Linked DNA regions of Homo sapiens: region 2 is linked to region 1. The links come from fine-mapping of genetic effects on gene expression. A gene starts in region 1. The other region holds a variant in brackets. All regions are shown on one strand. Distances are from middle to middle. Region 1 holds the start of MAEA (macrophage erythroblast attacher, E3 ubiquitin ligase). Region 2 has its middle 14 kb from the start of NKX1-1.

Region 1 (5,214 bases):
ATGACGACAGAGGTGCCCAAGGTCAGTGCGTGTTGGCTGCAGCAATTCACGTCTGTTCCATTCTCTTCCCACTTCACCAGGAAAATAGAAAAATAAGTACCTGCCAGGCACCCAGGAGCCCCACCAGCCGCCCTGACGCTGTGAGGAAGCAGACATCCCAAGTGTTACTGCTGAAACCCACCTAGGGCTACCAAGCCCTCTGAAGAGAAAGGAATCCCCTGTGAGTCTGTGGAGGACTCACATGGCAGGAAAGCAGTTTAACTATTACCAGGTGAAGATCCAGTCCAGAGCATGCCAGCTGCTACCACCCTGCAGGAGGACTTGCTCTCAGACTAGAGAAGCAGAACATCCACCCCCCACCTTCCACAACCCCGGTCCTGCAGCCCTCGGTCCCTTCTCTGACATCTGCACTGGCCCCTCCTGGAAACTGAAGAGTGCAGCTCTTGAGCTGTGAGCTCAGCATGTTCTGTTTAGTTCTATACCAATAAATGCTTCTAAATCAAGGATCCCTAGTTTCCCAGCAAAACACCTCCATTATCCACTAGGAATCACTCCTGAAAACTTCTATGAAAAAAAGTTTTAACTCAGTAGTGACACAAGTGTCAACAGAGAAATTATGACACTATAATATTTCTTTACCTGTATGACTATCTGCATGACTATTTTAATCAGAAGCTATGCAATCACTCTGGAATACAAATTACATTCACGATTACAAAACAGCAGAAGACCTGAAGAAGAATCCTTTCCGGAGACCTTCCATCTCCCTTCCTAGTTCCTTCAATACACAATGAAAGGATTTCTGGAAACTTTTCCTATCTAGTGTTTCCCACATTCACCAGCCAGTACCAGAAGTGACAAACCACCACGGTTCTGATCTTCAAACCTTCTTGTGTGTTAGCTGAAATGACAGGCCTGGAGGTGCACTGCGTGAGACAAAGTGGTCAGTGGTTAGGACTCCCTACTAATATCACCACAATGTCCTTGTATAGACTTCTCTCAGCTGCAGGGTCTCCATCTCTAAACCAACAGAGATCCACCAATGTCACTGAGTATTAAAAACCAACCACCTACATCTTGGAGGGATCTAGCAAGAGGCTAGACCTTTGGTAACGTCAGCAACATTGCCCTCCCTTCCTTGATCAAAAGAAGTGCTGGACACACAAGCACCATGAAACCCCACTGCGAAACCATTAGTGTGGCGGGCGCGTGGCTCACACCTGTCAGCCCAGCGCTTTGGGAGGTCAAAAGGCAGGAGGATCGCTTAAGTCCTGGAATCCAAAACCACCCTAGGCAACAGTGAAACCCCGTTTCTTTTTAAAAATATGAAATAAACCGCTAGTTAATAAAGAGGAGGAGAAGCTTGCTTCTGCTTTCCTATGAAGACCAGCTACAGCAGGGTACAGCCTGACTTCAGCAGCGCTAACTGTAGCAGGGACCTTTTAATGAATGCTAGGCACTGTTTGAAACAATACGTGGTCACTCATTTCACCCTGAGGTGACACAGGCGCTACCACTGCTTAAACCTGACAAGAATAAACAGTCACCAACCGGGCCCTGATGTCTCCCAGTAAGGACGAATACAGAGAAGCCTGATTCACACCCCAGCAGGATGGCTCACAGCCTGTGCTCTTCAGCCCTTCGCTGAACTGCCCTGGGGCTGGGGGAACGCACAGCAACCTGGCCATACTGCATCCTCCACACCTGTCGCCACACCGTCCGTCCTCAGACGGACGTGAACACCAGGGCGCTCTGGGAGGAGAGAGAAACTACGCAGCTCTCCAGGAAGGCAACACAGAACCACGAAGCTCAGCCGCAGCTCTAGGAAAGCTATGACCTTGATCTTTTAAGGAATTCCTTCCCAGGTGCTTCATATCAAATCCTCTACTAACTAGGTAAAGAACAAGTATCGGCTCCTTCTACTAGGAGCACAAATTTCATTCTAAGAAGTGCGACGTGGCTAGGTGACCACCCAAGGTCACGCAACCGGCAGCCGGACGGCAAGAGCTGTATTTCAGGTTTGGTGACGCCCATCAAAAAGGTCGCTGGGTGCCATCAGGCCGTGAGGTTTCTCCCTACAGTTCCTAACTAGCGACCGGCGCAGCCGGCACCTCCCAGCCCTGGGCTCCCGGGAGGGCGGCCGGGCACTGGCTGGGCACGCCGCGCACTCCGTCTGCCTGGGCGCCAGAGACCCCACGCCCCGCAAACTCCGGCTTCCACCCCAGCCCCAAATTCGCCACCCTTAGCGCTGCCAGAGTCGTCGCTGGCTCGGCTCACGCAGCTCTTCAAGCAGAGGGGCCACAGTCGGGCGCCTGGCAGGGCCAAAGCCGCCGCCCCCGCCACACCTGCCCGGCGCGGACCGGGCGCCCCTGAGAAGCCCGCACGGCCCCGCGAGGCCGCGCCCAGCTCCCGCCGCCCTCGCCGCTGGCCCTCCCGGGGCGGCCCCTCGCGGCCCGAGGGCACTGGCTGGAGACGCCTTCGCTGCCCTCAGCCTGCGCGGCGCAGGCGCCCACCTTGAGGGTCGGGTACTCCTGGACCTTCAGGGTCATGGACAACTGAGCCGCCGACTCCTGCACCGCCATCTTGAAGCGGCCAAAACATTAGCGGGCGGGGGACGCGCGAGCGCGCTGCACGCCGGGAAATGACGCCACGCGCCGGCCGGAGCAGGATGGGGGCGGGCCGATGCCCCTGCACCAATCGTATCCGCCCAGTCGGCCGGAGGCGGAAGAAGGCGCGAACCAATCACTGCCGGGTTTCCTCTCGTTCAGCCAATCAACGATAGCCCCGGCTGGCGGTTTCCACCTTGAATTCGCTACCGGGTTCAGGCCGCAGACGCCGGAGCTGGGGATGCTCCTGGCCCGGGGCGGGCCGATGGGGTGCGGGCTGCGGCCCGGGCGGGTGGAGCTGGGGCCGAGCGGGCTGGGGGACTTGGCGTCCGTCCAGTTACTTGGGGCTCCCGCGGGGTGGTCCCCTGTGGGTCCCTCGTGCCTGCGGTACCAAGGGCAACGCCAACAAAACGCCTGGCCGCATGCGCCTGTAGCCAGCTATTTTTCTTTGGCCTTATTTTGACCGATTTACAGCTGCTGGAATCCTGATGTGGAACCTCCGACTTCCCAACGGAAGAGGAAAGGCCCAGTACCTAAAACTGATTTATGGACAGAAACTCCCGAAGCATGAGAAGCGTGTGGCCTCTCCGCCCTCTCCTTGCAGGGCGGGCAGCGCTGGCATCCAGGTCGTGCGCTGCCTTCATTTCAGCCACTTCACATTCTCAGCCTTTCAAACACCACCCGTCTCCCTCCTTTCCAAAATAAAACTGAAATTAGATTTTATTAATTAGGAAATGACGTCCCAATTAAACCACCTTGTGTTTCACATAACACATTTCTAAACAACTTTTAAAATATTTGGTGTTTAAACAAAGGAAAAACATCTAAGGTGACACAGCGATGAAGGGAGAACCTCCGCTTGGAGGCTGCTACATGTTACAGCCGCAAGACATCCGACCCGCACTGTGGAATCTTTCTCTGTCTTACTTAAACAGGAGTTGGGACTAAGGAAAGTGTTATTCCTCAAGTGTGTGGCTGCAGACTCCAGTCTTTTAGACATTTGAAGTAAGTTTTACAGTGAGGTGCACAAATCTTAACTATACAGCTTTAATGAATTTTCACCCATATTTGCACTTTTATCTAACCGTGTCCTGGTTGAGATTTAGGACATTTCCCGTGGCACAGAAAGCTCCTCTGCCCCTTCCCGGGCTATATCCCCATCATTCTAACCCTGCTCCCCGTAACAGCGTTCCTGACCTTCCTATAGAGATGGAAGCATGCACTCTGTACTCTTTGCGTCCTTTCACGGTTCGCATCGTGTCTGCCACTCTCCGGGATGGTCCCAGTAGTACACAGGAGCACTGCAGCAGTTGGATGGACTGCACTCCTCTTAGAGACTGCCTTCACTTCACCAGGGATTCAAGATTAACCCAAAGGAAAGGACACGGGTTTCATTTCCATGGTAAAATGATCCTATCCTAGTACCATCTACAGTCAGAAATACTTAGGAATTATAAGGCAGAGGTTTGCACGTTGGAGAGGTTGTTTAACCCTCTACAACCTTTGAGTCATTCATTCTAGGTTTTCTTATGTTGGAAGATAAAACTGTATTTGAATTAGTCCTTTTGTAAACCAAAAAGTGTCTGAGACAGATCTCAATCAGTTTAGAAGTTTATGTTGCCAAGGTTAAGGATCATGACCAGTGACACAGCCTCAAGAGGTCCTCAGAACACATGCCCAAGGTGGTTGGGTTACAGCTTGATTTTATACGTTTTAAGGAGATGTAGGCATCAATCAGTACATGTGAGATTTACATTGGTCCGAAAAGGCAGGACAACACAAAGCACAGCGGGGCTTCCAGCTCACAGGTGGATTCAAAGATTTTCTGATTGGCATTTGGTTGAAAGAGTGCTTATCTAAAGATCTGGAATCGAGAGAAAGGAGCATCTGGGTTAAAAGGGGTTGTGGAGACCAACGTTCTTATTACATAGATGAAGCCTCATAGGTGGCCACCATTAGAAGCAATAGATGGCAAATGTTTCATATCTAGATCTTAAAAAGCTGCTAGACTTGGCCGGGTGCTGTGGCTCACGCCTGTAATCCCAGCACTTTGGGAGGCCGAGGCGGGCGGATCACGAGGTCAGAGATCAAGACTATCCTGGCCAACATGGTAAAACCCTGTCTCTACTAAAAATACAAAAATTAGCTGGATGTGGTGGCACTCACCTGTAGTCCCAGGTACTTGGGAGGCTGAGGCAGGAGAATCACTTGAACCTGGGAGGCAGAGGTTGCAGTAAGCCAAGATCACACCACTGCACTCCAGCCTGGGTGACACAGCGAGACTCCTAAAAAAAAAAAAAAAAAAAAAAAAAAACAAGAGCTGCTAGACTCTCAGTTAACCATTAACTTCTTCAGAATCAGAAAAGACCCGGAAAGGAAGGGCAAGGGATTCCCTACAGAATGTAAATTTCTCCCACAAGAGACAGCTTTGCAGGGCCCTTTCAAAATATGTCAAAGAAATATATTTTGGGGTAAAACACTTTGATTTCCTTCAAGGCCAGCTATCTGTCATGTGATGCTCTACTAGAGTCAAGTTGGAATTTGGCATCTTATTGCTACAGAGTCTGTTTTGTCAGTCTTAAGATCTCTGTTTTAATGTTAATGCTGG
Region 2 (5,214 bases), 130 kb before region 1:
GTTTGTAACACAAAGGATAAATGCTTGAGGGGACGGATGTCCCATTCTCCATGATGTGATTTTTATGCTTTGCGCGCCTGTATCAAAGTATCTCATGTACCCCATAAATATACACACATACTCTGTACCCACAAAATTAAACTCAAACACAGTTATGTTAAATGTCAGTAATCTAAACATACCCAATTAAAAGGCAGAGATTGTTACAGTGAATTTTAAAAAATATCCATCCCACTACATGCTGGCTACACAGAACCCACTTTATATATGACTATATTTGTAAATTAAAAGTTAAAGGATAAAAGAGATATACCAGGGAAATGTTCATCAAAAGAAAGCTGGAATGGCTACAATATCTGATAAAGTCAACTTCAGAACGAGAAAAATTATTAGGGGTAAACAGACATTACATAATGACAAAAGGGTCAATTCACCAAGAAGACATAAAAACCTAAACGTGTATTGCCCTCATAACAGACCTTTAACTGAAAGGAAAAGTAACAGACTCACAACTCTAGCTGGGGCCTCAACAGTCCTCTCAGTATCAACAGAACAATTAGGTAGATAAGGAGGGAGGATACAGGAGAACAATACCATCAGCCAACAATTTCTAAATGACATTTACAGCATCTGCCATCCAACAGCAGCAGGACACACGTTCTTGTCATGTACACATGGAACTCTCCAGAGAAACCATATCCTGGCTTATAAAACAAAACTAACAGATTTAGAAGAATTAAAATTATGTAAAGCATGTTCTTTGACAATAGTGGGTTTAAACTGGAAATGAATGACCTAAAGATACCTTTAAAACCCCAGAGGCTGAGAAATTAACAATTACACTTGTAAGTAATCCATGGATCAAAGAAGTTCTCCTAGAAGAAATTAGAAAGCATTCTGGACTAAATACAAATGAAAATTTAAAATATCAAAATTTTTGGTATGCAGTTAGAGCAGCTCTTAGAGGGAAATTTTTAGCAATAAATGCTTATATTAGAACATCTCATTGACAACCTAAGCTTCTAATTTAGGTAACTAGACAAACAAGAGCCAAAGAAAACCAAAGCAATCAGAGGAAAGAATAGTAAAGATAAAACCGACGTCAGTGGAATTAAAAACAGATAACCAGGTGCAGTGGCTCATGCCTGTAATCCCAGCACTTTGGGAGGCTGAGGTGGGCGGATCACTTGAGGTCAGGAGTTTGAGATTAGCCTGGCCAACATGCAGAAACCCCGTCTCTATTAAAAATACAAAAGTTAGCCAGGTGTGGTGACACATGCCTGTAATCCCAGCTACTTGGGGGTCTGAGGCAGAAGAATCACTTGAACCTGGGAGACAGAGGCAGTGAGCTGAGATGGCGCCACTACACTCCAGCCTGGGTGACAGAGCGAGACTCCATCTCAAAAAACATAAGTAAATAAAATGTTAAGAAAAATAGAAACAAAAATATTAGATAAAATCAATGGAATCAGAAGCTGGTTCTTTGGAAAAGTCAATAAAAATAGGTAAAACTGATAAAGAAAGAGAAGATACAAGTGACCCATTACAGGCATAACAGAGGGGCTGTCACTGCAGAGCCCACAGGCATTGTAAGGATAACAAAGGAGCATTCCATGCACGGATTCAGCACCTCAGATGACTGGACCAATTGGAAATCCACAAACTACCAAGACTCACTCAAGAAGAACTAATAACCTGAACAGCCCTATCTCCACTAAAGCAGTTGAATCCATAGTTAATAACCTCCCAAAAAAGAAAACTCCAGGTCCAGATAAATTCACTGGTGAATCTTACGAAATATTTAAACATAAAAATAACTCCAATTCTATACAAAACTTAATCAAAAAATAGAGGTGGAAGTGACACTTTCTATTTTATTTTATTTTTTTCTCTTTTTTTTGAGTTGGAGTCTTGCTCTGTCGCCCAGGCTGGAGTGCAGTGGCGCGATCTCGGCTCACTGCAAGCTCCACCTCCCAGGTTCAGGCCATTCTCCTGCCTCAGCCTCCCGACTAGCTGGGACTACAGGCGCCCGCCATCATGCCCGGCTAATTTTCTGTATTTTTAGTAGAGACGGGGTTTCACCATGTTAGCCAGGATGGTTTCGATCTCCTGGCCTCGTGATCCACTCGCCTCAGCCTCCCAAAGTGCTGGGATTACAGGCATGTGCCACCATGCCCGGCTGGAAGTGACACTTTCAACTCATTTCGCAGGGCCAGAATTCCCCTAATACCAACACCAAAGTCATCACAAGAAAAGAAACTACAGGACAAAACCTCTCAGGCACATAGATGTGGAAATCTTCAACAAAACACTAGCGATCAAATCCAGAAACATGGAAAGCATGAGCACATGATGGCCAAGTGGGGTTTACCCTGAGAACACAAGGCTGTTCAACAGAGAACGCCAGCCATCACAATCCACCATGTCAACAGACGCAACGAGAGAAGCCATATGAGCCTATGGATACGGAAAAAAAATGTGATAAAATGCAACATCTGTTAATGATTTTACAAATTTCTCAGAAAATTAAGAATAGGAAGGAACTTCCTTAACCTGGAGCTATTATAAAATGTTTTTGAATTTTTAGGATTTAATCA[C/T]TGATCGTGGGTATATAGAAATTAGATTGACCTTTTTCAGGCTTTTTCTCTGACCTTGCTGACTTATGAATTCTGGGTGCTTTTTCCTTGGGATTTTCTACGTAGATAATCATGTCGTCTGTATGCAGGGCTAGTTTTATTTTTTCTGTTTCAATATGTTTACATTTTATTTCTTTTTCTTGCCTGAAATATTTACAGGTGAAGCAACTTAATGTCTGAAGGTATATTTTAAGATTCCAGAATAAAGGTGTGGCTTTGGATACACAAAACCATATTGACACCAAAATGTTGACAGATGTTGCATCTGAGTGACAGGTCCCAGGAAGCTGATCTTACTCTGCGCTGTATTTTTGTGTGTGTTTGAAATATGTTATAGTAGAGGGTACTTTTTTTTTTTTTTTTGAGATGGAGTCTCCCTCTGTCGCCCAGGCTGGAGTGCAGTGGCGCGATCTCAGCTCACTGCAACCTCTGCCTCCCAGGCTCAAGCAATTCTCCTGCCTCAGACTCCCGAGTAGCTGGGATTACAGGCACCTGCCACCACGCCCGGCTAATTTTGTATTTTTAGTAGAGACGGGGTTTCGCCAGGTTGGCCAGGCTGGCCTCGAACTCCCAACCTCAGGTGCTCCGCCTGCCTCGGCCTCCCAAATTACAGGCATGAGCCACCATGCCCAACCCAAGGTTACTTTTTAACCTATTGCCACCCACAAAACAACCTCAATAGCTGACCAAATGGAAAAAAGACAGAGCTCACAAAGAAGACAAAGTTCACAAAAAAAAAGAAGCTACGTGGCTAATATTCATGAGGGAAAATGTTCCTTCTCACCAGTGTCCACAGAAATGGCAACCGCCACAGAAGGAGGCGGGGATGCCACCCTGTGAGATGGTGCCCATGCCAGTGACGCCGGAGACGTTACCCAGCCTTTAGGAATTCCCTCCCTTTAACCCAACCCATCACTTCTGGTGTCTCCTAGAGGTGAACTCAAGTCTAAACAAGAATCTACACAGCAGTGGTTCCAGGCACAGAAAGCCAGACTGCCTAGGCACACGGATGGACGGCTCACGCCCTCCGTGTGACAGGGTTCTATGGGACCGGTAAGAACCTGTGTTACGAAGTCTGCTATGACAACGAGAAATGCCTAGGATACAAGGGGGGGCCAGCATCCAAGTGCCCAAGGCTATAGGTGCAGCGCCCACATTTATGGTTTTTTTTTTTTTTTTTGAGACAGAGTCTCGCTCTGTCACCCAGGCTGGAGTGCAGTGGCAAGATCTCGGCTCACTGCAACCTCCACCTTCTGGGTTCAAGCAATTCTCCTGCCTCAGCCTCCCGAGTACCTGGGACTACAGGTACTCGCCACCACACCCGGCTAATTTTGTATTTTTTTTTTTTTAGTAGAGATGGGGTTTCACCATATTGGTCAGGCTAGTCTCGAACTCCTGATCTCAAGTGATCTGCCCGCCTCGGCCTCCCAAAGTGCTGGGATTACAGGCGTAAGCCACAGCACCCGGCCAACATTTATGTTTTTAGGAAGCAGAAAACGAGATGAGAGGAAAGCAGAAAACGGCAAGGTGTGAGCTGGGCCGTCGCTGTGCTGTGGGTTATGGGAGATGCTGCTTCTCCTCTGTGCTTTTTCACGAGCACGTGTTACTTTGATCACTAGAAAAGGCAACGGTTGTCTACAATCACTGTGAGGGCAGGATGTCCTCACAGACACCTGGCAGGGTTCGGCCAGGTCAGCAGGAAGCCCAGGTGGCATCCTCGTCACAGCTGGAAAGAGATACCGTCACGACCAGCCCCCCTCGCTGGGATCACGGGGTGTGGTCCTGGGTGGTGTCTGTGTTCACATTCCCTTATTCATCCCCAGCCCTAAGCTGCCTCCCACATCTGCCGTGTTGGGGAGGTGGAGGAGGAGACATGGAGCCTCACCCCACAGCCTCCTCAGTGTGATGACAAATGGGCACTTGGATAGGGGCTGGGAGGACTGACGTAATGGGGCATCCTTTGGTGAGGCAGCCACCAGGACCTATCTCGAGTATTGACCCCAGGGCACATCAAAAAAATTAAGTTCAGTAATTTGCTGGGTGAGGTGGAGGCTTCTGTAGTTCCAGTTAGTGAGGAGGCTGAAGTGGGAGGATCATTTGAGCCTGTGAGTTCCAGGCTGCAGTGAGCCGTGACTGCGCCACCGCACTCCAGCCTGGGCGACAGAGTGAGACCCTGTCTCAAAAAGCAAACAAAAGTTATCATTGGCCCAGCACTTTGGGAAGCTGAGGCAGGAGGATGCCTTGAGCCTGGAAGGTCGAGGCTGCAGTGAGCCAAGATCTCTCTCCTGCACTCCAGCCTGGGTGACAGAGTGAGCCTACCTCTAAAAAGAAAAAAAAATTATGGCAGAAATTGCCATGTAATGAAACAAGCAACAGAAAGTGCATGCCAATGGTGAAAGTTTTATTGAATTTATATATTATTAGTAAAAAAATTAACTACGTATTATAATGCAAAATCGGAAAAAGGGAATGGGTTGATGCTTTTTAATGACATGAATGTCATAAATATTTCCTTTTTGGAATCATTTTAGATTAACAGCAAAGCTGCGAGGAGCATGAGAGAGCACCCACCTACACC

The links. PIP is the estimated chance that this variant, and not a neighbour inherited with it, causes the effect.
Region 2: its variant is the best candidate, but not a certain one, in a credible set for the expression of MAEA in whole blood (INTERVAL, PIP 0.56).

What each region holds. Positions count from the first base shown.
Region 1 is chr4:1,287,282-1,292,495 of GRCh38, reverse strand. MAEA (macrophage erythroblast attacher, E3 ubiquitin ligase) reads right to left here and starts at 2,605. Exons shown (of 9, transcript NM_001017405.3): 1 at 2,514-2,605. The coding sequence starts at 2,582. It overlaps LOC105374347 (a long non-coding RNA gene), which reads left to right and starts at 2,925. Exons shown (of 3, transcript XR_925046.3): 1 at 2,925-3,611. It overlaps LOC105374346 (a long non-coding RNA gene), which reads right to left and starts at 4,893. Exons shown (of 2, transcript XR_925043.3): 1 at 4,773-4,893; 2 at 4,202-4,470. RefSeq lists silencers at 1,024-1,206, 2,295-2,574, 2,675-3,084.
Region 2 is chr4:1,418,280-1,423,493 of GRCh38, reverse strand. No RefSeq gene overlaps it. Among named protein-coding and RNA genes, the nearest start is that of NKX1-1, 14 kb to the right of the region's middle. The variant C/T (reference allele first, on the strand shown) is at 2,598.